Homo sapiens: one gene and its partners. The protein of the gene in region 1 purifies or fractionates together with the protein of each later gene. This does not show direct contact. Each region holds a gene or a part of one and is shown in the gene's direction. Other genes may lie near its edges. The genes, in order: FSHR, GJA1, ABHD6, PPP1R15B, BMPR1A, UPK3BL1 and AKT2.

The links.
Region 2: the proteins of FSHR (region 1) and GJA1 purify together in Homo sapiens (affinity purification with mass spectrometry; one large-scale study listed by BioGRID and IntAct). This does not show direct contact.
Region 3: the proteins of FSHR (region 1) and ABHD6 purify together in Homo sapiens (affinity purification with mass spectrometry; one large-scale study listed by BioGRID and IntAct). This does not show direct contact.
Region 4: the proteins of FSHR (region 1) and PPP1R15B purify together in Homo sapiens (affinity purification with mass spectrometry; one large-scale study listed by BioGRID and IntAct). This does not show direct contact.
Region 5: the proteins of FSHR (region 1) and BMPR1A purify together in Homo sapiens (affinity purification with mass spectrometry; 2 studies listed by BioGRID and IntAct, with this or other methods). This does not show direct contact.
Region 6: the proteins of FSHR (region 1) and UPK3BL1 purify together in Homo sapiens (affinity purification with mass spectrometry; 2 studies listed by BioGRID and IntAct, with this or other methods). This does not show direct contact.
Region 7: the proteins of FSHR (region 1) and AKT2 purify together in Homo sapiens (affinity purification with western blotting, with the first as the bait; one study listed by BioGRID). This does not show direct contact.

Annotation. Positions count from the first base shown.
Region 1 is NC_000002.12:48,987,016-48,990,515, reverse strand, and holds part of FSHR (follicle-stimulating hormone receptor isoform 1 precursor), read left to right. Parts: intron 1-1,461; coding exon 1,462-1,539; intron 1,540-3,500. UniProt on the Homo sapiens protein: G protein-coupled receptor for follitropin, the follicle-stimulating hormone. Through cAMP production activates the downstream PI3K-AKT and ERK1/ERK2 signaling pathways.
Region 2 is NC_000006.12:121,438,646-121,442,145, forward strand, and holds part of GJA1 (gap junction alpha-1 protein), read left to right. Parts: intron 1-3,500. UniProt on the Homo sapiens protein: Gap junction protein that acts as a regulator of bladder capacity. A gap junction consists of a cluster of closely packed pairs of transmembrane channels, the connexons, through which materials of low MW diffuse from one cell to a neighboring cell.
Region 3 is NC_000003.12:58,272,292-58,275,791, forward strand, and holds part of ABHD6 (monoacylglycerol lipase ABHD6), read left to right. Parts: intron 1-2,366; coding exon 2,367-2,524; intron 2,525-3,500. UniProt on the Homo sapiens protein: Lipase that preferentially hydrolysis medium-chain saturated monoacylglycerols including 2-arachidonoylglycerol. Through 2-arachidonoylglycerol degradation may regulate endocannabinoid signaling pathways.
Region 4 is NC_000001.11:204,402,881-204,405,849, reverse strand, and holds the end of PPP1R15B (protein phosphatase 1 regulatory subunit 15B), read left to right. Parts: 3' UTR 1-2,469; downstream 2,470-2,969. UniProt on the Homo sapiens protein: Maintains low levels of EIF2S1 phosphorylation in unstressed cells by promoting its dephosphorylation by PP1.
Region 5 is NC_000010.11:86,763,119-86,766,618, forward strand, and holds part of BMPR1A (bone morphogenetic protein receptor type-1A isoform 3 precursor), read left to right. Parts: intron 1-3,500. UniProt on the Homo sapiens protein: On ligand binding, forms a receptor complex consisting of two type II and two type I transmembrane serine/threonine kinases.
Region 6 is NC_000007.14:102,639,992-102,644,247, reverse strand, and holds the start of UPK3BL1 (uroplakin-3b-like protein 1 precursor), read left to right. Parts: upstream 1-1,456; 5' UTR 1,457-1,506; coding exon 1,507-1,618; intron 1,619-3,474; coding exon 3,475-3,636; intron 3,637-3,833; coding exon 3,834-4,044; intron 4,045-4,256.
Region 7 is NC_000019.10:40,240,346-40,243,845, reverse strand, and holds part of AKT2 (RAC-beta serine/threonine-protein kinase), read left to right. Parts: intron 1-1,158; coding exon 1,159-1,312; intron 1,313-1,776; coding exon 1,777-1,908; intron 1,909-3,500. UniProt on the Homo sapiens protein: Serine/threonine kinase closely related to AKT1 and AKT3. All 3 enzymes, AKT1, AKT2 and AKT3, are collectively known as AKT kinase.

The DNA of each region.
Region 1 (3,500 bases):
GCCCAACGGCTATCTGGGCCTTTAATATGCATTGTGTAGTCTACATCCTCCAAATGTATTGCTCTGGGTTAGCAAAGATAGGGAGGCCAGAAGTGAGGTCCTTGATTTTACCTGCAGGCCAGTCAATATTAGTTTGGAGGAAACTGAAAGACCCTTCAATAAGAGTATTGTTCACAAAACCAGCATGTAGCAAAATCAAAAAGTGGCTCATTTTTTCACTATTTAGCGCTTTAATTACTGCCCCCCACACACATAAACAACACCCCCTGTATTCCAGCATCCTCTCCTCTTCTTTCTAGAATTGCTATGCTGCCCTGGGCACAAAGAAACTATCTAACAAACACATTCATATTAAAGAGTTAATGACAGGCTGTGTTTGCCTTTTCCCAAGGTATTTGTATTTTGAAAAAGGAAGAGAAAAGGTAGCATATAATGGCAACTATTCCCAATAGTGAAATTGTAAGAATATGGACAGATCCAAAAGGAGGAGATGGGGAAGGGGTGTAAGGAGCTAAGCAGAGAGGAAGGAGATAAGCAGGGAGGGAGGAGAGAAAGAGGAAAATATGAAAATCTTTCAGAATTTCTCAAATTGTTCCAAGCTGTTTACTACACTACTTGTACAGCTGTTACTTCCACATTTACTTCTCCATATTAGATCAGACCTAACAGGGAAGGTTGACGGGGGAAATGAGGAATACAAACAGAAAATGAGAGTTTCCTCATCCTTTCATTCAGGAAAAGAAAAATCAATGATAAAGCCATTCTGAGACCCAAGGAGAACAGGCAGAAGGAAACTAGCTGTAAGAAGGGGATTGACATGAGGAGAAGGCCCAACTAAGATGAACAGAGAAGTTAGACAAGAGGTGAAAGGTCAGCTTAAGTGTTTGTTACATTAGGGTGAAATTATTTAAGAAAACCTTCAGAAGAAAAAAGTAAGCCATGCACAGTGGCCAGTGGCTCTAATCCAGTACTTTCGGAAGCCAAGGCAGGCAGATCACTTAAGCACAGGGTTTGACACCAGCCTGGGCAACATGGTGAAACCCTGACTTTACAAAAAATACAAAAATTAGCTGGGTATGGTGGTGCACACCTGCAGTCCCAGCTATTCTGGAGGCTGAGGTGGCAGGATCACTGGAGCCTGGGAGGTTGAGGCTACAGTGAGTTGTGATGGCACCACTGCACTCCAGCCTGGGTGACAGAGCAAGAGAACCTGTCTTAAAAAAAAAAAAAAAAAAAAAAAAAGACACTGAATGTCTGCAATTCCATTTGTAAGAACATACTAAAGATAAATTAGAGACAATTTTTTCTCCAAACTTTGAGCTGATCATCTTCTAAACAACAACTAGTTATATTAATACATTACCTCAGCTGAAGACCGCATCATGCCAGTTAAACTAAATTTTGGAAGGTTACATGAGTAGAGCTGATGTAAGTATCTTATTTGTCTGTACTTTCTTCTAGTGACATTCAAGATAACATAAACATCCACACAATTGAAAGAAATTCTTTCGTGGGGCTGAGCTTTGAAAGTGTGATTCTGTAAGTAAGGGGGAAAAAATCCAACAGAGTAACATTTGATTTTTCATTTAGTGATCTCTTTCTCATAATTGGATGCTCCTTTTTTGTTTGGGTAACTTTGGCATTTCTCCACTTAAATCACTCTCCAGTTCTGCGTTCCTCTCTCATCTTTACATTTCAGAATCACAATGTGGAGTCATGTTAATAATTTATGATTCTGGGGTGTGATTCAAGTATTTAAAATTGCTGTTTGAATGATGATCTCCTGTGATACAACATCTGTTCCAAAGGAAAGAATAACTCATGCATCAATAAAGCTAGTTATTGCCTGGCAAGGCTTTTGTTGCCCAAAGAAAAAGATCAGGAAGGAGGCCCAATCAGGAAGATATGGCGATTCCCTCATAACCATGCCAAGCAGTTCCTGTTCAGGCCCATGCTGAGCATAGGATGACTTCTCATTTTCTTGAAACAATCACATTTTTTAATGAGCTTGAGTTACTCTCTCTGACTTTTGGGAAATCTCTTAAAAGCATTCTGTGTTGTTAGTGAAAGACCTTCTACTCTTTTATGCCAGTAGCCCCTGTAGCAGTTTATCCACTCACAAGTATGGCCAAGAAATAGGACACTATGGGCTATCTAAGTATGCCTGGGATCCATGAAAGTTAGATGCACAGAATGACATTTGGGGACCCAGCAATTGCACTTACATCTGTAAGATATGAAAAGCATTTTATCTATTTTACAAACTGTTGTGTTTTTAAAAAAATATACCAGTATGAGTTTTTAAAATATGCCTATATGTACAAAACATAAGTTCCAGTCCATAAAGAATTTTAGCCCCCTTCAGTTGTATGATTCAGAGACCAGGCTGTTGAAAGAAAAAAGAAATAGTAGACAGATTATAACACTTTGATGAGTAAAGCTAAGCACTGTATTTGATGTAAATTAATCACAGATAACAATGGAAAAAGTTTGAAAACAGATTAGCATAGAAATTGAATGTATGGAGGGAACAATAAAATTAAATCAAAGGAATGTATTCAAAATACATAGATATTAGGACAAAAGCTATAGGTGAGTGATACTGAATCATTTCACATAAGCTCATGATATTTGAAGTGAAGGGGTGTGTGTGTGTGTGTGTGTGTGTGTGTGTGTGTTGAGATGAGGTGATGGGGTGCAGAAAGGGTAAGAAAGAGAAAGCAAAAGGAATAAACTAAAACGCGAGCAGAATGAATGATATACAAAGAAAAAAAGAGCAATCATTCTAAGAGGAAAGAAGGAATGATTTAATCTCACTAGTCTGTGATGCGAGGGTTAAAGGAAGAGTTAAACAAGGGAAAGGAAGCTAAGAAAAAGAGGTTGTTTTTAAAATGGGCTTTTAAAGATGAGCAGTAGTTAGCTAGGGAATTGGCAAAGGGCGTGCAGAGGGAACAGAATAATCAAGACCAGGAAGAGCACCTGCCTTTTATAAAAATAAAAATAATCAGGTGGGCGTGGTGGCTCATGCCTGTAATCCAAGCACTTTGGGAGACAGAGGCAGGCAGATCACGAGGTCAGGAGATTGAGGCAATCCTGTCTAATACAGTGAAACCCGTCTCTACTAAAAATATATAAAAAAAAAAAATTAGCTGGGCATGGTGGCAGGCATCTGTAATCCCCTCTACTCAGGAGGGTGAGGCAGGGGAATCGCTTGAACCCGGGAGGCAGAGTTTGCAGTGAGCCAAGATTGCACCACTGCACTCCAGCCTGGGCAACAGAGTGAGACTCCATCTCAAAAAGTAATAATAATAAAATAAAATAAATAAAAATAATAATACAAAGAGCTTGTGGAAAATAGTGAATACATGAGTCATATTGGCCTGCTGGATTGTGAAACAAACACAACAGTAAAAGGATTCCTGGGTTACTTCACAGAGGGAGATTGGTGATAAATGTAAACATTTATACCTAGATGTTTATGTTTATTTGGATCTTTCTTG
Region 2 (3,500 bases), on another chromosome or scaffold:
TTATTTGAAGAGATGTGTGGGAGCTTATCCGCACACACCAGTTCAACTCTGGAGAGAAAAAGTAATTATCTAGTGTTTATTATTAATGTAATATTCTGTATGGATAATTCAAGTTTTAAAAAATCTCCAGAGCATCTCTTCCATGGGAGATTAATGTATATATTTTTTAAATTCTTAGCATAATTGTCTAAACCTCCATCTAAAGTCACCTTTTAACTATGTATGTACAGATTGTCTTTTACCTATTTTCAAACTGTGGTTAGCTCTTTTTTTTTAATACATCAGTGGCTTATACAATTTCATAAATTTCACATTCCAATTTCCCTATGCTTTTAAAATAATATTTTAAGAAAAATATATGTTTATCGTCAGCTGGGCATGATGGCTCATGCCTGTAATCCTAGCCCTTTGAGAGGCTGAGGTGGGAGGATCGCTTGGGGCCAGGAGTTTAAAACCAGCCTGAGCAACATAGCAAGACCCCACCTCTATAAAAAAAAATTTTAAAAAGAAAATGTATGTTTGTCAATCATTTCTTAGTTGCTGTTTTGCTAAAGAAAAGATGAAAAATTTAAAACCAAATGAGCTATATCTAAAGGTCGTCTAAAGAGTAAGAACCAAACTTTACTGAGCTGTTACTAAGAGCATCACATGCATGAGTTATTTATTAAATTCTCATTGAAAAAAATAGACTATCTTAATCAATACACTTGTGAGGGCCCTAAGGGTGTCTTTATATGATTATAAAATAACAAGGCTATTCACTAAAAATAGTCAATTTGGAGGTGGAAGTAAGAGTAGGGGCAGAGGAAACGCCAAGGACTGATAGAAATATATTAAGTTACATCACAATTGAAGAACATGGCTTTTAGCCTCAGCTTCTGACTTGGGATTTTCTCTCTGGTAGCCCTAAATTGATCTTGAGAAACTTGTTTTGGGGGAGAATTGAGTAGTAGCTGTTGAACTAGGGAGAGGATTGTCTTTTATGGGATGCACCATCCTCTCTTTGGATGGAGTTCCTCACACCTCAATTCCCATCTCATCTCATTAAGTGGATGCTAATGTAAGTTCAGTGATGAGGAGGGGTAAGAGCTGGGGAAGGAAGGCTTGTTGGTGTTTTTATGTTGTCCTCCCCTCTGCCCCCAAAATAAGCAGTTCACAACATCAAATACCTACACAAATGTGCAATTATTTATAAATATATTTTTACATACAGTAAGTTTGATACACTATAGTTAGGCCATCTAGGTATAAATAAGGAAGTAAAGGTTGGGTATTATCTGATGAACTGGGAATCTTTTCCATGGTACTTGAATCTAATCACTTTAGTGCCTGCATAGACTCAGACTGTAAAGATGTTACATTAACCAGGGTTAATATCAACTGCTGCTCTTCCCCTTCAGAGCCCTAGCCTTCCCCGATATTTATCATTCTTGAAATAAACACGATTTTAAACAGGCTATTTCTTCTTGTAATAGTGTCCTTGTCTACAATAAAATTGTGTGGTGCAATCGGAGTTAGAACATCGTAGAACTAGGGGACAACCACACAGTTGTGTTTTTTCCTTTTTTTTTTTGTTTTGTGTTTTAAATCTTAACCTGCAACAACCTAACAGTGAACTGAATGTACAAGCATGATACCTGATGCAGTTCTACAAGAATCCTAACCCTCATTAGGATCTCATTTAACAAATTCAGGAAGCTCTTTGTTAAAAAGCCTTTTTTCTTTTTTCTTTTAAGCCTGTCAAATTTAGCAGTGGGGGTTGCAAAGAGCCTTTTTTCTTAATTTAGCTCTTTTGCCTGCTCAGGAATCATTTGAAGCATGTTGTTTCAACAAACAGTTCTCTGTTTCAGCAATTGTCACTTGAAAATTTAACAGTATGAGAATGAGATGATGACAATAGTTTTTTACTGTGAAGTTTCCTTTTTAATTAATTTGAAACTTTAGAAATTTGAGATATAACTACAATTAAGAGAATCCCAAAGAGACAGAAAAAAACAAACTTTTTTTTTTTTTTTGCACAGTATCTTTCTATTTTTTGTGGAAGCCCCATTTAATTCATTTAACATGTAGCTATACCCCAATTAATTAATTCTTTTCTTTTCTTTTCTTTTTTTGAGACGGAGTTTCACTCTATCACCCGGGTTGGAGTGCAGTGGTGTGATCTCTGCTCACTGCAGCCTCCGCCTCCCGGGTTCAAGCAATTCTCCTGCCTCAGCCTCCAGAGTAGCTGGGATTACAGGCACCCGCCACCACGCCTGGCTACTTTTTTGTTGTTGTTGTTGTTGTTGTTGTTGTTGTTTGTCGTTTTTTTCTTTGAGACGGAGTCTCGCTCTGTCGCCCAGGCTGGAGTGCAGTGGCGCGATCCCGGCTCACTGCAAGCTCCGCCTCCCGGGTTCACGCCATTCTCCTGCCTCAGCCTCCCGAGTAGCTGGGACTACAGGTGCCCGCCACCACGCCCGGCTAATTTTTTTGTATTTTTTTTATTTTTAGTAGAGACGGGGTTTCACTGTGTTAGCCAGGATGGTCTCTATCTCCTAACCTCGTGATCCGCCCGCCTCGGCCTCCCAAAGTGCTGGGACTACAGGCTTAAGCCACCGCACCCGGTCTACTTTTTTGTGTTTTTAGTAGAGATGGGATTTCACTATGTTGGCCAGGCTGATCTCAAACTCTTGACCTCAGATGATCCTCCCACCTCGGCCTCCCAAAGTGCTGGAATTACAGGTGTGAGCCACATCTCTTACTCTTTCAAGCACTGGGGATACAGCAGTGAACAAAGCAAACTCCCTCGTATTGTTCACATTCCAGTTAAGGAAGACAAATAATAAATCCTTCTCATGGAAGGAGGTACATAGTAATCAGGCAAATATTTACTATATCAAGTAGAGAGAAAGTCTATTAAAATAATAATTTTTTAAAAACCAGGGCAAAGGGAATAGGAAATGACAGGACTGGGGAAAGGATGTTGCTATTTCATATTTGGTGGTCAGGAAAGTTGGCTGATGAGGTGAGACCTGCAACAAGTGAGGACGTGAGCTGCGTGGATGGAGCAGAGCTCATCAAACCAAGCTGATTGTTGGTTTGTTTTCTCAAGATTGACTGATTACTCGGAGTATAGGTTGGCAAGTAGGGTGACCAGGCTAATGACATGAAACCTAGCAAACTGATGATGGCTGAGATCAAGCTAAGGGTGGCTGTTTTAAGTGCGGAGGAATAGACAACTGAGTTCACTCAATGACATTTACTGGAGGGGCAGAGGTTATTATAAAAGTGAAAGAAAACATTACAAGGGTTTGCATTTGAGTTTTTGGGCATGAATATTTTTGGGTGTTAGTACATTAGACACACACATGATTTCCCTTTCCTCCCAAAAAATCCATTAAATGATTTTATCGGGAACTTCCATAGACATTTCCTTATGTAGGTTTAGACTCTGATTTTATTCTTTCAGATATTAAAGTCCTTCACCTTCTCTTTTCTTTCAATCATAAAAAGATGCTGGA
Region 3 (3,500 bases), on another chromosome or scaffold:
ACAGAGCCCAGGCTGCCTGACTCCAGAACCCAAGCTGTGATGTTTGGAAGTCCTTGCATATTTACTGCCTCCTTTTTATGACTCATATCTTCTACTTCCTCTGTATGATTCAACTAGAATCCAGCCATGAATTGAACATTTAATGACTTTTACTGAAACTTAACTAAATTGACCTTTAAAATCCTTCTGCCACTCTGAAAGCTAATCATTTTCGATATGTTGAGGACATTGAAATCGAAGAGAAGACACCAAAGGGTCTTCTCCTCTCTTTTTTCAAGTAGCATATCTGAAATAATTTGATCTTATAATAATAAGTTTGAGAATTGAAGGAACAGCATCTATGGAAGGTTTTTAGATTTTAAATCACTTACAGGAAGTAAAATCTAACTGGCTTTTTCAAGTATAGGTTCATTTGCTCAGAGAAAAAATTGACATCCGAATTTCAACTGGAAATTTAAAATTAAGTTTGTATGTGAAAACTAAAAAGTAGAAATAAATTCAGGATTATATCCTACCAAGAGTTTTAAAATAAACTTTCTAAAAATTTTGAAATAATTTTTAATTTACAGAAAAATTGCAGAGATATTATAGAGCGCCCCATATAACCTATACTCAGTTTCCCCATTAATAGCTCACATTACCACAGTAAATTTTTTCACAACTAAGAAACCAACATTAGTATATTACTGTTAACTAAATTCCAGGCTTTATTTGGATTTCATTTAGTTTTTCAACTCATGTCCTTTTTCTGTTCTGGGATCCAGTCCAGGATGTACCACATGACATCTAACCTAGGTTTAGTTTTAAAGAGAGGGGAAATAGATAATGTCATCTGCTTCATGGCATCGTGAAAGCCATACATCATACCCATGTTAGATTTAAAGGGTTTGCTGGACATAGATTTGCAAAGCGTGGGTTTCTGCATCACGACCAATATTATTGATGCTACTGCCTTTCATTATAAAATCTAGCTCTTTTCTAGATTTTGCTGGGTGAGGTAGCTCACACCTGTAATCCCAACACTTTGGGAGGCTAAGAGAGGAGGATTGCTTGAGGCCAGGAGTTCAAGACCAGCCTAAGGGAGACCCCATCTCTGCAAAAATATAAAATTAAAAAAAAATCTAACATTCACACATATGTTTATTGCAGCACTATTTACGATAGCAAAGACTTGGAACTAACCCAAATGCCCACCAATGATAAACTGGATAAAGAAAATGTGGCACATATACACCATGGAATACTATGCAGCCATAAAAAAGAATGATTTCATGTCCTTTGCAAGGACATGGATGAAGCTGGAAGCATCATTCTCAGCAAACTAACACAGGAACAGAAAACCAAACACCGCATGTTCTCACTCATAAGTGCGAGTTGAACAGTGAGAAGACATGGACACAGAAAGGGGAACATCACACACTGGGGCCTGTCAGAGGGTGGAGGTCACAGGGAGGGAGAGCATTAGGACAAATGCCGAATGCATGAGGGACTTAAAACCTAGATGACGGGTTGATAGGTGCAGCAAACCACCGTGGCACATGTATACCTATGTAACAAACCTGCACGTTCTGCCCATGTATCCCAGAACTTAAAGTAAAAAAAGAAAAAAAAATCTAATTATTTGGCTAAGCTAAATGCCTAGAAATTTGCTCCATGCTGGAAGTGAAAATTAGTTTTGCCCTCTTGCATACATAGCATCAGCTTCTGTGGACTCTCGTGTCGTGCCCTGAGGTGATGGGAGATAATGAGCAATCTCAATTTTGCTCTCCTAGAGGAAGAGCAACTGTGGAGAAGGCAGCAGGGTTGCTGCCCTAAAGCAAGGGACAGCTGGGAAGACTCCCAGTCCCCCTGTGTTTTATCATTGACCCCAAATAAGAGAGTACCACGTGGGTCCAGGCCAAGGGAAGGAGTGTCATTCATGCCAGCCCTATGTTTTCTTCCGGTCATGTATTTCCTCACATTTCCTGTCAACACTCAGATATGCTTAGGCAAGTTGTCTTCTAGGCTAACCCTCCTTAAATTCTATCATACATATGAATCCCCTGGCAACTTGTAAGAAGGCAAATTCTGGTTCAAGAGGCTCAGGGAGGAGCAGCGTCTGCATTTCTTGTGGGCTTTTGATGCTCCTGGTCCATGGACTACAGTGTGAGTGACCAGTCCCTGAAATATGTGGAAGGATTTTTTTGTGTGTTTCTCAGTGTGGTTTTGATTTGAGCAAGGATGGCAGTACCAACAAAAAAGAAATCTACTCATGAAATAAACCTGAAATATATTAACTCTGGGCTGCTGTCAGAAGTTCCCTATATAAAATGGGATTGGTAAGAAGGTGGATGTATCATCAAGCCATTTGGGTTTGAATCCCACAGGCCTGCAGTACTCAACTGACAATCAATTTGTACAACGGCTCAAAGAACTGCAGGGCTCTGCCGCCGTGGAGAAGATTCCCTTGATCCCGTCTACCCCAGAAGAGATGAGTGAAATGCTTCAGCTCTGCTCCTATGTCCGCTTCAAGGTGCCCCAGCAGGTAACGTGGTTGCAGCAGCGACACAACTACCCTCCCCAGAGGCCCGGGGGCGAGTACCAGCTTCCTGCACGTATTCCCTCCTTCACCTACTCATTGACTACTTCTTGTCCTCTTCTGCATATATTCAGCAAGTGTCTCTGCAGTGCCTGCAACACGCTGGGCACTGTGCTGGTACAGTGATCAATAAAGACAAGAAGGTCCCTGGGCAGACACAGTCCAGTGGGGGAGGCAGACAATAACAAGTAAACAATGAACTACCAGTGGTCATGAGTTTTATAGCAGAAATGAAGATGGTGTAGTGATTGAATACGGGGAGGCAGGGGTGGCTTTGATAAGCCTCTTCTAGGGACAGCATATGCAGAGGTGGAAAAACATACATATTCAAGACAAAGGAAGCCAGGGTAGCTGGAGCCCCAAGAATAAGAGAATGGTGAAGATGGAGTTAGAAAGGGAGGCAGGGGCTAAATCAGAGATACTCAATTGAAAAAAAAAAAATCTCAGGACCCCTTATACTCTTTTTTTTTTTTTTTTCCAGACAGAGTCTCACTCTGTCACCTAGGCTGGAGTGCAGTAGCATGATCTCGGCTCACTGCAACCTCTGCCTCCCAGGTTCAAGCGATTCTTCTGCCTCAGCCTCCTGAGTAGCTGGGATTATAGGTGTGCGCCACCACGCCTGGCTAATTTTTCATTTTTAGTAGAGATGGGGTTTCACCATGTTGGTCAGGCTGGTCTCGAACTCCTGACCCCGTGATCCGTCCACCTCAGCCTCCCAAAGTGCTGGGATTACAGGCTTGAGCCACCTCACCTGGCTAGGACCCCTTATCCTCTTTTTTATTTTTTAAATATACTTTAAGTTCTAGGGTGCATGTGCACAGATTGCAGGTTTCATACATAAGTATGCATGTGCCATGTTGGTTTGCTGCACCCATCAACTCACCATTCACGTTAGGTATTTCTCCTAATGCTATCCTTCCCC
Region 4 (2,969 bases), on another chromosome or scaffold:
GTGCTTTTAAATGTCCTTTGCCTGCATGAGGTGGAAAGGGGACCTTTTTGAGTTGTCATTTTGCACTTTCAAAACTTATTTTCTTGGAAAACAATATTTATAGGGCTTAAAGCCCATTTTCATTTCTAATCTAAATTATGTGTGCCTATCTGAAAACTTTGGGCTCTTTCTTGTTTCTTTCCCAAAATTCAGAAGTTAATGGGCTTTTATGTTTTTCTATATTTTTTTTATTTCAATGATTTGGCCTGTCTATGTTAGGCTAAAAAATAACCTTGTGTATGCTACCAACTTAAAGTGCATTATTTTGTGTCACTTTTTTTTTTCTTGTAAAAATGACTTGGATTGAAAATATGTGGTAGCCTTTTTATTTCTACATTAAGTTCTACCTAGGATATTTCCAAGGACTGCCACAAAACCCATATGTGCAGTACTTTACTACTTTGGGAAAGCTGCATCTTTCTACCACATTTTAACATCTAATATATTTAATTTCTTTGAAGAGGGTTCTGTGTACGTTATTGTAGTTCCCAGTTTAATATAGTTCTTTGTATCTCTTAACAGGTTGAAGTTATTGCAAAACACTCTGGAAAGTAATAATTACATCATAATCATTTATTTTTTAAACTTAAAAGCCTAGAAATTTCCTAGAAAGAAAATAGGAGACATCTCAGAGCAATTTGGTTTTGGTGTATATGTTCTCAACAGAAAACCAGTGTTAATGAATATCATGCCTCAGCACTGTCACTTTTAAAACCTGTCAGGATCCCACTGTAAAATTGGAAATGGGCAGTTCTGAATTTTCACGTTTGAAATGTAAAATATAAACTTCAGTCAATATCCAGGTTTATTGTGTCCTACTATTTAATAATGAGAGAAGTAATGGCAAGGCCTTTACTTTCAGGAAAGGATAGAAGTATAGATTAATGACTGGAAAGTTTTAATATATTTAGCCCAAAGGTTACTTTGAATTGAAGTCTTTGCATTGACTGTTTGTGTTTGGTTTATTTGTTTAGCTTTACAAGGTACACATAAGTTAGGTTGAGGGGTTGTTAACCCTTCCGTGGTCTGCTTTCATTCCGTGTGCTTCCTGTCACAGGTAATGGAAAACATAAGTAGAATAGGTGACCTCTTAGTTTTGAACTTATTTAAGTGTGGGGATGAATTTTTCATCAGAAGTGCTTACAGGGTTACTACCTCAGTTTACAATCTACCTGGTCATTATTTTATTTCTATCCAGTTCTAAGAACTGCCTCCACTGTTTATATATTCATAATTAAACACATTGAGAATGCAACACTATAAAAGCTGGTCAAATTTTTGCAGAGCCCTTATTCTGTGTGTTTTTTGTTTTTTTCTTTTTTTTTTGAGACAGAGTCTCGTTCGGTCCCCCAGCTTGGAGTGCAGTGGCGCGATCTCGGCTCACTGCAACCTCCGCCTCCTGGGTTCACGCGATTCTCCTGCCTCAGCCTCCCGAGTAGCTGGGATTACAGGCACACACCACCACGCCCGGCTAATTTTTTGTGTCTTTTTAGTAGAGACGGGGTTTCGCTATGTTGGCCAGACTGGTCTTGAACTGCTGACCTCGTGATCCGCCCGCCTCGGCCTCTCAAAGTGCTGGGATTCTGTGTGTTTTGTGCACCTCCACTTTAGGTAATCATAGGGAGCACATTTACAGGATGGTCTAATAACATGAAAACAGGCTAGTTTCAAGCAACAGCAATGTCGGTTGGAAAGCAGGCGTCATTTGCCTTGAAAAAAGCCTTTTGACAACATACAGGCATTCTTTTAAAACCAGGCTGAAACATTTTATTTCCGAGACTTAACGTTGTGTTTCCTGTTTCTTAAACCTAGCACCTCTGTGTATTTGAAAATAATGAGACATCTTTCATTGGATTTTGGAAAATTGTTCCCCATGGGATTCTAACCTCACTACCAAATGAGTGAAAGCTTGATTAAGAGTTCTTCCATATACTAGCCTCCTTGGAAGAAGTGATCAGAAGGTGATAAGAAGGACAGAAAGGACTATTTTAAAGTTGGACTGAAGGAGAAAAAAGCAAAATTCTTGTTTCATCCCAATTCTAGTTAGAACAAAGTTAAACCCCCGTAATCTTAAAGAGAAAATCTTTGGAGGTTTTAATTAAACATTTTATACATTTAAAGTCTTGTTAATGGTGCTTTAAGTGTCAATGTAGCATGTAAAAGGCTTTGTACAGACAGGTAAAAGTTCCATTTCTGAGTGATGAAATGTAACACTTCTTCATCTTTAACTTGAAATCAAAACTATCAGATTTTATTTTTGTATAATTTAAGGAAGGTAAAGTTAGGGGACTAGAAGACTCTAAATTGGCTTCTACAGATCAATAATTTAAATGTAACTAGTTGGGATTTTATAGTTAAAATTATATTTGTGTATATAACATAACTAATCTGTAAATTGTAATAAATATATTTGCAATTATTAAATGTTAAGTGATATTTTGGTTCAACTTTATATTATATGTATCATAGTATTTTACAATGGTTTTGGAATTACTAAGCAGGATTAGTATAATTGCAAACAACATTTTAGTAATAGAAGAACTTGGTTCTTGCAGTATTATGAGAGGCCCTTCTAAGAAACTGAAGATTTGATTCTGAAATTGGCCCTAGCTTTTCAGTTTTGCTGCAAAGAAAATTAAACTGGGTATTCACAGAAGCAATAACATTCAGATGCTGGGCTTAGCCTAGTGCTTAAGTAGCAGGGAAATCTCTGTTTTGTGCATTATTATTATTATTATTTTTTGAGACGGAGCCTCTGTCACCCAGGCTGCATTGAAGTGGCACGATCTCAGCTCACTGCAACCTCCACCTTCCGGTTTCAAGCGATTCTCCTGCCTCAGCCTCCCGAGTAGCTGGGATCACAGGCACCTGCCACCATGCCCGGCTAAATTTTGTATTTTTAGTAGAGATGGGGTTTCATCATGTTGGCC
Region 5 (3,500 bases), on another chromosome or scaffold:
CTCCTGACCTCGTGATCCGCCCACCTCGGCCTCCCAAAGTGCTGGGATTACAGGCATGAGCCACTGCGCCCGGCCAGAAGTATTCGGTAAAGTGAGCAGTTTTTGCAGCTTTTTAAAAATTTTAAAGGCAATACATCTATTGTGGGTAATTTGGGAAGTATAAAAAGCCATAAAGAAGCAGCGGAATGATTAAGTTTCAGCTTCTAATTTTTTATAAATAATGTCTGATACTGGTTTTACTACTGAGTACCTATTCAATCACGGATGCCACACTAACCCAATCCGAATCTTCGTTTCTTTATCTTAAAAAATAGAAGGAACATGGTGAACTTTAAGATAATTTTTCTGCTTAAAAAAAGAAAAAGAAAGAAAATATCTTGACTTGCAGCACAGTTAGCTGCCGAAATTGAAGGTCATATAATGCTTTTGGTCCTAATGACATCACTGGACTTCTGACTTTTGGCTGAAGAATCACGCCAGCCTTGGCAGTCCTTGCAAGTACCAAAGGGAGTATGGCTTATGCCTGCGGTGCCCTTCCCGTATCCTGCTTTCTTACCTCCTTTTTTGAGCATTAATTTTTTTTTCTTTAGCCTTTGGGTAAAGTATCAAAATGTTGAGAAGATAGACTCTCAATTTTGAAGGTGAGAAATCTGTAGGAGACTTGGATAGTTGTTTTTTTTTTTTTTTTTTTGAGACGGAGTCTCGCTCTGTCGCCCAGGCTGGAGTGCAGTGGCGCATGTTGGCTCACTGCAAGCTCTGCCTCCCGGGTTCACGCCATTCTCCTGCCTCAGCCTCCTGAGTAGCTGGGACCACAGGAGCCCGCCACCACGCCTAGCTAATTTTTTCTATTTTTTAGTAGAGACAGGGTTTCACCGTGTTAGCCAGGATGGTCTCAATCTCCTGACCTCGTGATCCTCCCGCCTCAGCCTCCCAAAGTGCTGGGATTACAGGCGTGAGCCACCACATCTGGCTGACTTGGATAGTTTTGATACTGTTTTATGTATATTAAGATTTGTAGGTAGTTTTCTTACTAGTAATTAAAATGCTTTGTAATGTATTTCAAGAGTATAGGGTCTTGAGTGTTTTAAATTTGTATATAAGAATGTTTTAGATTCCTGGCTAAAAGAAGCTCTTGTTAGAAAATATTAAAGTAAAGGCTGTTAAATTTTGGTGAGGCTCTTAATGTCTGCATTTTTCAAGAATCATTTAAAAATGTCATGAAATAAAAATATTTCAGTGGTAACTGTTCAGAAGTATCTTAAATGTATACCAAATCAATGAAATATAATCGCTGGGTGACAGATTATTCTTCCTTCATTTTATAATCTTTTATTTAATAAAAATGTGGGGGAAAAATTGCATGTTGAAGTTGTACGTGTATATTTTAGCAAAAACTGTTAATCTTTCTGAAGTACTGCTTTGGTCATCATCCCTATTTGTTAAATATTTTTCCCTGTTTTCTTATTTGCTTACAATAGAAAATCCAGAATATCTTGGACTGGTCTCCTGCTCTGGCCAAGTCAGCCTTTTCTGCTTTGCTTCCTTTCCTACTATTTTATCAGCCTAAGTCACGTAAATATCCGATTCAGGTTTGGGTTCAGAATCCTTAGACCTCTACTGTCCACTACAATAGATAGCCACTACCACATGTGGCTGTTGAAGACTTGAACTGTGGCTAGTCTAAGTGTGAATTACGTACCAGATTTTGAAGATAGTACCAAAAGATGTAAAATATCTCATTATGCTTTTAAAATATTGGTTATATAGTGAGATGATACTGTTAGGGATACATTGGATTAAAGAAATATATTAAAACTGATTTTGGCCGGGCATGGTGGCTCATGCCTGTAATCCCAGCACTGTGGGAGGATTGCTTGAGCCCAGCAGCTTGAGACCAGCCTGGGTAACGTGGTGAGACCTTGTCTCAGTTAAAAAAACAAAACTGATTTCACAGGATTCTTTTTACTTTTTAAATGTGGCAACTAGAAAGTTTAAAATTACACGTCATATTGGACAGTACTGCCTTTGACTTTCCTTTCCCTGGTTCTTTGCCCATCAGAATGCTTTAAAATCTAGTATAAATCCTTGGCCAGGTGCTGTGGCTCACGCCTGTAATCCCAGCACTTTGGGAGGCCGAGGCGGGAGGATCACGAGGTCAGGAACTCGAGACCAGCCTGACCAACATGGTGAAACCCCATCTCCACTAAAAATACAAAAATTAGCCGGGTGTGGTGGCACGCCTGTAATCCCAGGTACTCAGGAGGCTAAGACAGGAGAATCACTTGAACCTGGGAGGTGGAGGTTGCAGTGAGCCGAGATTGCACCATTGCACTCCAGCCTGGGCGACAGAGTAAGACTCTGTCTCAAAAAAAAAAAAAAAAAAAAAAGAATATTCCTCTCTCTCCTATGAAGCCCTCCTCAGTGGTCCAAGCCTCATAGTTGGCTCTTTGCTGCATCATTATTTGAAGATAATCTTTTGGTATATTAGATTTCTTTACTACAAACCTTCTCAGAACTTTTAATATGCTAATACACATGGTGAAACTCTAGTATAGTTTCCCTAACTACGTATTACCATAGAACTGTGTGTTTTCTGTTAACAGAAGTTACACATATTTGTGGTTGAAATTTCAAACAATACAGAAATGAAGTAATGAAAGTCTTCTGTAATCATGCTTCACCTGTGCCCCAAGATTGCCACTGTTGAAAGTATAGAGCTAGAAAAAATTTTCTTTTCTGTTGCCTTCTTTCTTTTTTTCTGTCCCCATTTCCTAAAATGGGGTCATACGATACATCCTTATCTTTAAATTTATTTTCACTGAATATATAGGGGGATTCTTTTTATGTCAGTAAATTTCAATTTCCTCATTCTTTTTTTTTTTTTTGAGGGAAGGTCTTGTTCTGTTGCCCAGGCTGCAGTGGTGCTGTGGTGCAAACAGCTCACTGCAGCATCCAACTCCTGGGCTCAAGCAATCCTCCCATCTCAGCCTCCTGAATAGCTGGGACCAGAGGTGCATGCTACCATGCCCAGCTAATTAAAAAATTTTTGTGTGTGTGGAGGTGGGATCTCACCATGATGCCTAGGCTGGTCTCGAACTCCTGGGCTAAAGTGATCCTCCCACCTAGGCCTCCCAAAGTGCTGAGATTACAGGTGTGAGGTGTTGTGCGCAGCCTTAATCATCTCATTCTTTATAGTAGTTAAGCAGTTATTCCATTTTCTGATTATACCTTAATTTTACTTACCAGTTTCGTGTTAATGAATAATTAGATTATTTCCATTTTTTTCTTTTGCATTGCAAATATGCTGTGGTGTTTGTACATATCCTTTGAGACTGTTTTTATTTTATGAAATGAATTCTTAGAAATGCATTTACTATAAGAGAAGCCGTGCAGATTGGATGGAAAGTGCCAAGCCACCCTGCAAAATCTTCGTAACCATTCATATTCCAGCCAACAGTATTTGAATATGTTCTCTCCTCCCAACATAATCATATCAGTCT
Region 6 (4,256 bases), on another chromosome or scaffold:
GAGGTGGTCACAGGTCTCGCTCCACCTGCCCTGAGCCCCATCTCATCTTTTTTTTTTTTTTTTTTTTTTGAGGGGGAGTTTCACTCTTGTTGCCCAGGCTGGAATGCAGTGGTGCGATCTCGGCTCATTGCAACCTCTGCCTCCTGGGTTCAAGTGGTTCTCCTGCCTCAGCCTCCTGCGTAGCTGGAGTTACAAGAACAAGCCACCACGTCCAGCTAATTTTGTATTTTTAGTAGAGATGGGGTTTCGCCGTGTTGGCCAGGCTGGTCTCGAACTCCTGACCTCAGGTGATCCACCCACCTCGGCCTCTCAAAATGCTGGGATTACAGGCGTGAGCCACCATGCCTGGACTTCCATCTGGTAATTTTCTGTCTCGAGGAGGAACTACCCTGCCCTGACAGAGGCTGGGGATGAAGGAGGAAGAGACAGCCGGTCCCCTGGATAAAGAGGTGAGGGGGTGTGAAGTCTGGGAGCCCCCCTCCCAGGGCCAGGCTACAGGGGGACAGCAGGGCTATACCAGGAGTGCCACAGAGATGCATTTGGGTGTGATCTAATCCCCAGTCCTGCCCTGACCTCCTGGGTGCTCTTAGCCAAGCCCTCTTCCCTGTGTGTGCTAGAAAGTGAGGGTCACTCCCTTCCACACAAGGGAGTGAATTGAGGGTGGGGATCTGAGCTCTCTGAGCAGCAAAGCTGGACACAGGCCAAATTGCCAATCCTGAGTCCCTCTGTCATGTGGACCTGGGAAGCTTGTCCTCATCCTCCATCCTTCCCCAGGGTGGGGCCTGAGAATCTGAGAACCTTGAGCCTGGGAGGTCAAGGCCACAGTGAGCTATGATCGCACCACTGCACTCCAGCCTGGGCGAAAGAGTGAGACCCTGCCCCCCCCAAAAAAAAATAATAATAAATAAAAGAGACTCCAGGGAGTTTGCTTGAGCGGCACTCCCTATGAACCAAAAACAGACACCAACTCCTCCTAGGTTGGTTTTTTGTTTTTTGTTTTTTGTTTTTTTTTTTTGAGGCAGGGTCCCACTCTGTCATCCAGGCTGGAGTGCAGTGGTGCCATCTTGGCTCACTGCAGCCTCAACCTCCCAGGCTCGAGTGATCCTCCCACCTCAGGTCCTAAAGGAAGAGTCGCTACATTGGGGACTGTTTGGACAAGGAGATCCACGGGGTAGACTTAGCGGGATTGTCCCTGGGGCAGCCTGGATCCTGAGGCTGCCCCGCCTCCTTCCTCAGCCCCTCCCTGGTCAGGCGCTCCTGGTGGGTGGGGGGGGTAGTCCAGGCTTGTCTTGCAACTGTATGTTCTCTTCAGACCCCTCCCTGGCGATGCCAGATTCACTGGGCTGGCAGATTCTGCCCCCAAACCTGTCCAACCAGTTGTTTGAGAGGAGGGGGTAGCTGGGAGGGGCAGCAGGAGATGCCAGGAACAGCTTCCCCTAGCACAGCACAGACTACAGACAGGGGAGCCTCTGGGGCTGCAGACACTGCAGACGGACGGACAGACAGATGGACAACAGCTGGAGGCTTGGCCCGGCCATAGGGCTCTCTGCGGGACAGTCCCAGCTGCTAGTGTCGCTGTTGCTGCTACTGACCCGTGTCCAGCCTGGGACAGACGTGGGTGAGTAAGGGTGGGGATTGGCACAGGGGTACCCGCTGCATCTCAGGCTGCAGGACAAACCCAAGACCTCACTTTGTTTCCAAATTCTCACACATGGCTCCTGCCTCCTTCCTTTCCCTGAGGAGAGGTTTCCAGATGTCCAGGACAATGCATGTCCCCAGGAAGCTCTGGTAAGCCCAGCCTGGGCAACATAACAAGACCCCTTTTTTCAAAAAGATTTTTTTTTTTAAGATTTTTGTTTTTAATTAGCTGGGTGTGGTGGAGTGCACCTGTAATCCCAGCTACTTGGGAGACTGAGGCGGGAGGATGGCTTGAGCCCATGCAGTGAACTATGAATGCGCCACTGCACTCCAGCCTGGGCCAAACAGCAAGACCCTGTCTCAAAAAAGAAAAGAAAAGAAAAACTGGACAGGCTGAGAGATACAGTCCTACAATCTCTGCCCCCAACCCCAATCTCTGACTGCTCCGCTTCTCTTTTTCTTTTTCTTTTTCTTTTTTTTCTTTCTTTTTTTTTTTTTTTCGAGACAGAGTCTCCCACTGTCACCCAGGCTGGAGTACAGTGGCGCGATCTCAGCTCACCACAACCTCCGCCTCTCGGGTTCAAGCAATTCTCCTGCCTCAGCCTCCTGAGTAGCTGAGATTACAGCCGTGCGCCACTATGTCTGGCTAATTTTTGTATTTTTAGTAGAAACAGGGTTTCACCATATTGGCCAGTCTGGTCTCGAACTCCTGACCTCGTGATATGCCCGCCTTAGTCTCCCAAAGTGCTGGGATTACAGACGTGAGCCACCGCGCCCGGCCTCCACTTCTCTTTCTAAACATTACGTGCCTCCTGCACGCAGAGTGCCCTGGGCTTCAGAGATAGGACTGAGAGCTGTAAGAAAGGAATCGTGACAATCCTTCCCCAAGGAAGACTCTAGCCTGAACCTTTGGAGTTGAGTTGAATTCAACGTAAATGAATGAAGTTGAACTGAACTGAACTGAACAGGGGCAGCTGCTGGAGACTCACATAGAAACCCACTCCATCGTTCTGCTTCTCCTAGACCAGTATTTGGGGTTGGGGAGGTCTGAGCTCTCCAACCAGCAAGGCTGGACACAGGCCAAGTTGCCAATCCTGAGTCCCCTTTGGGGTACAGACCTGGGAAGCTTGTCCTCGTCCCCCACCCTTCCCCAGAGAGATGAGGTGGGAGTCTGAGAGGGGGACCTGGTCCTGAAGGCGAAGATGCCTCGGGGCCATGTTGGGAGGCGGCAGAGAACCAGGCAGGTTGAAGAGGACGTTCTAGACTCACTCGGAACCAAGCTCTGGCTCCAGAGCCCCCGGACCCTCTGGGCAGTCTGTGTCCCAGCCTGGGGTCTCAGCCAAGAGGACCTTCCTGTGCCATCCCCCCGACCCCTGCCAAGCCACGCATCCTCTCATCAAGCAAAACAACCTAGACCATGTGGGTGGAGCTGGAGGGACTTAAGTTGGAGGTCACTGGGCATGTCAGGAACAGAGTTCAGCCTAGGGTCAGGCTGCCCCCAAATTCCAGTTCCATCCCAACATGGCCCGGCCCAGGAGAACTGTGCCTACCGCCAGGGTGGGACCTCCCATGCCACCATTGTCCTAGACCTCCCACAGTGCCCACCCCCAGTAGGCTCCTAAGAGAGGGGCCAGGGGCTGGACTCAGGCCTCCCACCCATGCCCATGGGGCATAGAGTTGCCGGGAAAGCTTCCTGGTTCATACCGGACCTGACCTCCCAGGAAGTGCCCGTAACTTGGGGCTCCCATGTTAAGTCTGGATCTGGGCGGGGGGAGACCAGAGCTGTTGGGGCTTGGTTGCCCCATTTGGACTCTCCTCTCTGCCCTCCCCTTCCAGCTGCCCCAGAGCACATCAGCTATGTGCCCCAGCTCTCAAACGACACCTTGGCGGGGAGGCTCACCCTGTCCACCTTCACGCTGGAGCAGCCTCTAGGCCAGTTCAGCAGCCACAACATCTCTGACTTGGATACCATCTGGCTGGTGGTGGCCCTCAGCAACGGTGGGTGCTGCTGGGGCCAGGCTTCGGTTTTCCCTATGTGAAATGGGCCTGCGGGCCTAAGGGCAGTAGCGGGTGTGTTGCAGGGAGATGCAGGGAGCAGGTGCTGCAGGGGATGGGGCCGGGGAGGGCTGTCAGGCTTGGTAAGGTGAGGGTGGGATCCTGCTGTGTGACCTGTCTGACCATGGTGCCACCCTTAGCCACCCAGAGCTTCACGGCCCCACGGACAAACCAGGACATCCCTGCTCCTGCCAACTTCTCCCAGAGGGGCTACTATCTCACACTGAGGGCCAACCGGGTGCTGTACCAGACCAGAGGCCAGCTCCATGTCCTCCGCGTCGGCAATGATACCCACTGCCAACCAACAAAAATTGGCTGCAACCATCCCCTACCAGGACCCGGCCCCTACAGGTGAGCAGCTCTGCCAGGCCCTGGCTCCTGCCCGCATGCACCCAAGCCGGAGCCTGGGGCAGCTCCTACGAGGCTCACCAGGGCCCCAGCAGGATGCCTGGGTCCCCTGCTCCTGCTTGGCCAAAGGGAAGAGGAAGCAGCAGGCAGGGGCTAGGGAGGCCTTCATGAATTACATGAATTATCCTTCTTCTCTTTTTTTTTTTTTTCCTTTT
Region 7 (3,500 bases), on another chromosome or scaffold:
GTCTCGAACTCCTGACCTCAAGTGATCCTCCACCTTGGCCTCCCAAAGTGCTGGGATTACAGGCGTGAGCCATCGCACCTGGCCTGTTTTTATTTTTTATTTTTGTTTTTTAAAAACTTTTTAAGAGATGGGTCTTGCTTTGTTACCTAGGCTGGTCTTGAACGCTTCGGCTCAAGCACTTGGTCCACCTTGGCCTCCCAAAATGCTGGGATTACAGGTGTGAGCCACAGTGCTTAGCCTCTAGTTAACTGTTCTTAAACCAGGCTCCCTTCTGCTGGGACCTACTTCTTGTCCACCAGCTTCTCTCCTCTACATCCCTGGGCTGCCAGGACCTCTGTCCCTGCCATGCAGACTCCCTGCTCCCAGTGGACTGTCCCCTCCAGGGAGTCCTGCGGGCCAGCTCTTGCCTTGCAGTGTCTTCAGCTCCTTTGGCTAATGAATGCTGCTTCTTACTCTTGGTTTAACTTTACAAAACATTGGTAACTTATAAACTTGAGCTTGTCATTTGTTCCGAAGAATTCACAGGAGCACTCTCTCTCCCTCATTCAAGGCTCAGGGTGGTGGCTCATTTTCAAGGGGCTGTGAAAAGAGAGGGTCACTCCTTTTTGATCATTTCCCTGCTGCCTGGCTTCAAATGGCCCTCAGGCCAGGTCACTTTAGGGAAATTGGTGATCGCTCTTGGTATTCCACTTTTTTTTTTTTTTTGAGACGGAGTCTCGCACTGTCACCAGGCTGGAGTGCAGTGGTGCGATCTCTGCTCACTGCACCCTCCGCCTCCCGGGTTCAAGCAATTCTCCTGCCTCAGCCTCCTGAGTAGCTGGGATTAGGCGAATGCCACCCCTGACTAATTTTTGTATTTTTAGTAGAGACGGGGTTTCACCATGTTGGCCAGGCTGGTCTCGAACTCCTGACCTTGTGATCCATCCGCCTCAGCCTCCCAAAGTGCTGGGATTATAGGCATGAGCCACTGCGCCTGGCGTGGAATTTCACTCAGGTCCCTTCAGCTCTCTCTGGTTCTGACAGATCTTGCCCAAATTCCCATGGTTATGTGGTCATTTGCTTGCCTGTTGCTGGGGGTGGCTGGGAGGTGGCACTCAGCTGTTCGACTCTGAGGCCCAGGACTCCTGGCTGCTGGGACTCACGTGTGTCCCTGCACAGGGAGGAGTGGATGCGGGCCATCCAGATGGTCGCCAACAGCCTCAAGCAGCGGGCCCCAGGCGAGGACCCCATGGACTACAAGTGTGGCTCCCCCAGTGACTCCTCCACGACTGAGGAGATGGAAGTGGCGGTCAGCAAGGCACGGGCTAAAGTGGTAAGTGCTGGGAGCAGGGGTGGGGCTGCCAGCCTGCGGTGCCCCCACCCCCAGTGCTGGCCTGCTCTCCTTGGTTTCCATAACACAGTTCAGGGGGCTCAGCTGAGAGACAAGGCTGCCCTGCAGGGTGGGGTGATTTCAGGTGGCAGGTGCCCTAGGGTGTGCTCCATGCCCGTAGGGGAGGGAGCAACCTTGGGTGGACCCACTGCAGGTTCGTCCTGGGAGTTGGTGAAGACCTGGCTACCCCCACGTCAGAGCCCAGCCCTCCCAAGGCCCTGTGCCTGCAGAGCCTGGTCTGAAGGCCGCTTCAGAACACACAGTTGCTGCCCAGAGCCTCCCTTCCTGCTCCAGCCTAAGCCGTTTGGCAACAGTGTCTTTTGGTTTTCCTCTTTCTTTTGTTAAAATTTCCTCCCACGGGCCATGAGCCAGGCGCTGACTGCCCCCACTCTCCCTGTCCCTGGCAGACCATGAATGACTTCGACTATCTCAAACTCCTTGGCAAGGGAACCTTTGGCAAAGTCATCCTGGTGCGGGAGAAGGCCACTGGCCGCTACTACGCCATGAAGATCCTGCGGAAGGAAGTCATCATTGCCAAGGTGCGTGCCCCGGGAATTGCGCTCGCGAGCCTCTGTGGGGGCTGCGGTCTGGAGCCTGACCCTGAGGCCTGGACGCTTACCCGCGCTTTCTGCTGCTGTGGGCTTATTTCCCCCACAAATTCCCCCTAGTCAGAAAAGGGGGAGCCTGAGGCCCAGAGAGGAGCAGCAGGCCTTGCTGCTGAGTCCCCACCTCCACCCTATGTTAGGGGCTGGGGGTGCCTGTGGAGAGAGAGAGCCTCGGGGCCCCACCCAGCAGGTACTGTCAAGGGAGGCTGGGGCCTGTTGGGGAGGACGTCGCTGTTGGGGAGTCCCGGGCTTTGCTCAGGGTATCCCAGGTGGAGGCCGGGCCAGGAGTGGAATTCTACTTTTTCCCTTATTTGAATTTTTTGTAGTGGAAGATTCCAAAGACATTCAAAAATTTAAAAAGAAAATAAATATTACGGACCCCCATGTAGCCATTGTCCAGTTTAACCAGTTATCAGCGTTTAGCCAGCCTTGTTTCCTTAGCTCTGCCTGTCCCTCTTGTTCTGGAATACTTTAAGGCCTGTCCTAGACAACACGTCACTTCACTCATCCATACTTGAACATGTGTCCTGACAGATGAAGACTGTAAAGAATATAATCATGTGGTGCTGCCATCAGAGCCAACCAAATTAGCTGTTCATTCCTGATGTGACGATTGGGCCTAAGGCAGCCTTCCTCAGCCTCAGCACTGTTAACGTTTTGGGACAGATGATTCTGCGCTGTCGGGGCAGCCCTGTGCATTCTAGGGTTTCAGCAGCACCCCTGGCTTCTACCCACTGAAGCCAATACTAGCTCCCCAAGTTGTGACAATCAAAAATGACTTTTGGGTTGGGCGCCACAGCTCACGCCTGTAATTCCAGCACTTTAGAAGGCTGAGGTGGGAGGATCGCTTGAGCCCAGGAGTTCGAGACCAGCCTGGGCAACAAAGCAAGACCCTGTCTCTGTAAAAATAAAAATAAATTAGCTGGGCATAGTGGCGTGCACCTGTAGTCCCAGCTGCTCAGGAGGCTGAAGTGGGAGGATCAGTGGAGCCTCAGAGGTTGAGGCTGTAGTGACCCATGTTCACACCACTGCACTCCAGCCTGGGCGACAGAGCCAGACCCCCAGCTAAAAAAAAAAAGGGAAAAAAAAAAAAAAGACTTCAGACATTCTCAGGTGTCCCCTGGGGATAAACTTGCCCCAGAGAGAGCCTGTGTTCACGTTGCTGCAGGTGGCTCCAGATTTTTGGAACCACTCCTGGTGGTTCTGCTGTACAGTCAGGTACCAAATTAGAACCTGAATTAGAGTCACCCAAAGGGCTTGTGAGACAGTGCTGGGCCCACCCCGAGTTTCTGACTCAGTGGGCCTGGGGGTAGGTCCCAGGAATTTGCATTGCTGCCAGTTCCCAGGCGGTGCTGAGGTGCTGTGTGGGGACCACACCAAGAAGCACTGTTTTTCCTTCTTTGGGCAAGAATGCTTTCTAGGTGGGACTTCCCACAGCCTGTGGTGGCACCTCGGGGCTCTCGTGATGTCTGTTTGTCTCCCTTGCAGGGACGTCACAGGTGTCTTGTCCCTAGCAGCCTGGTCCT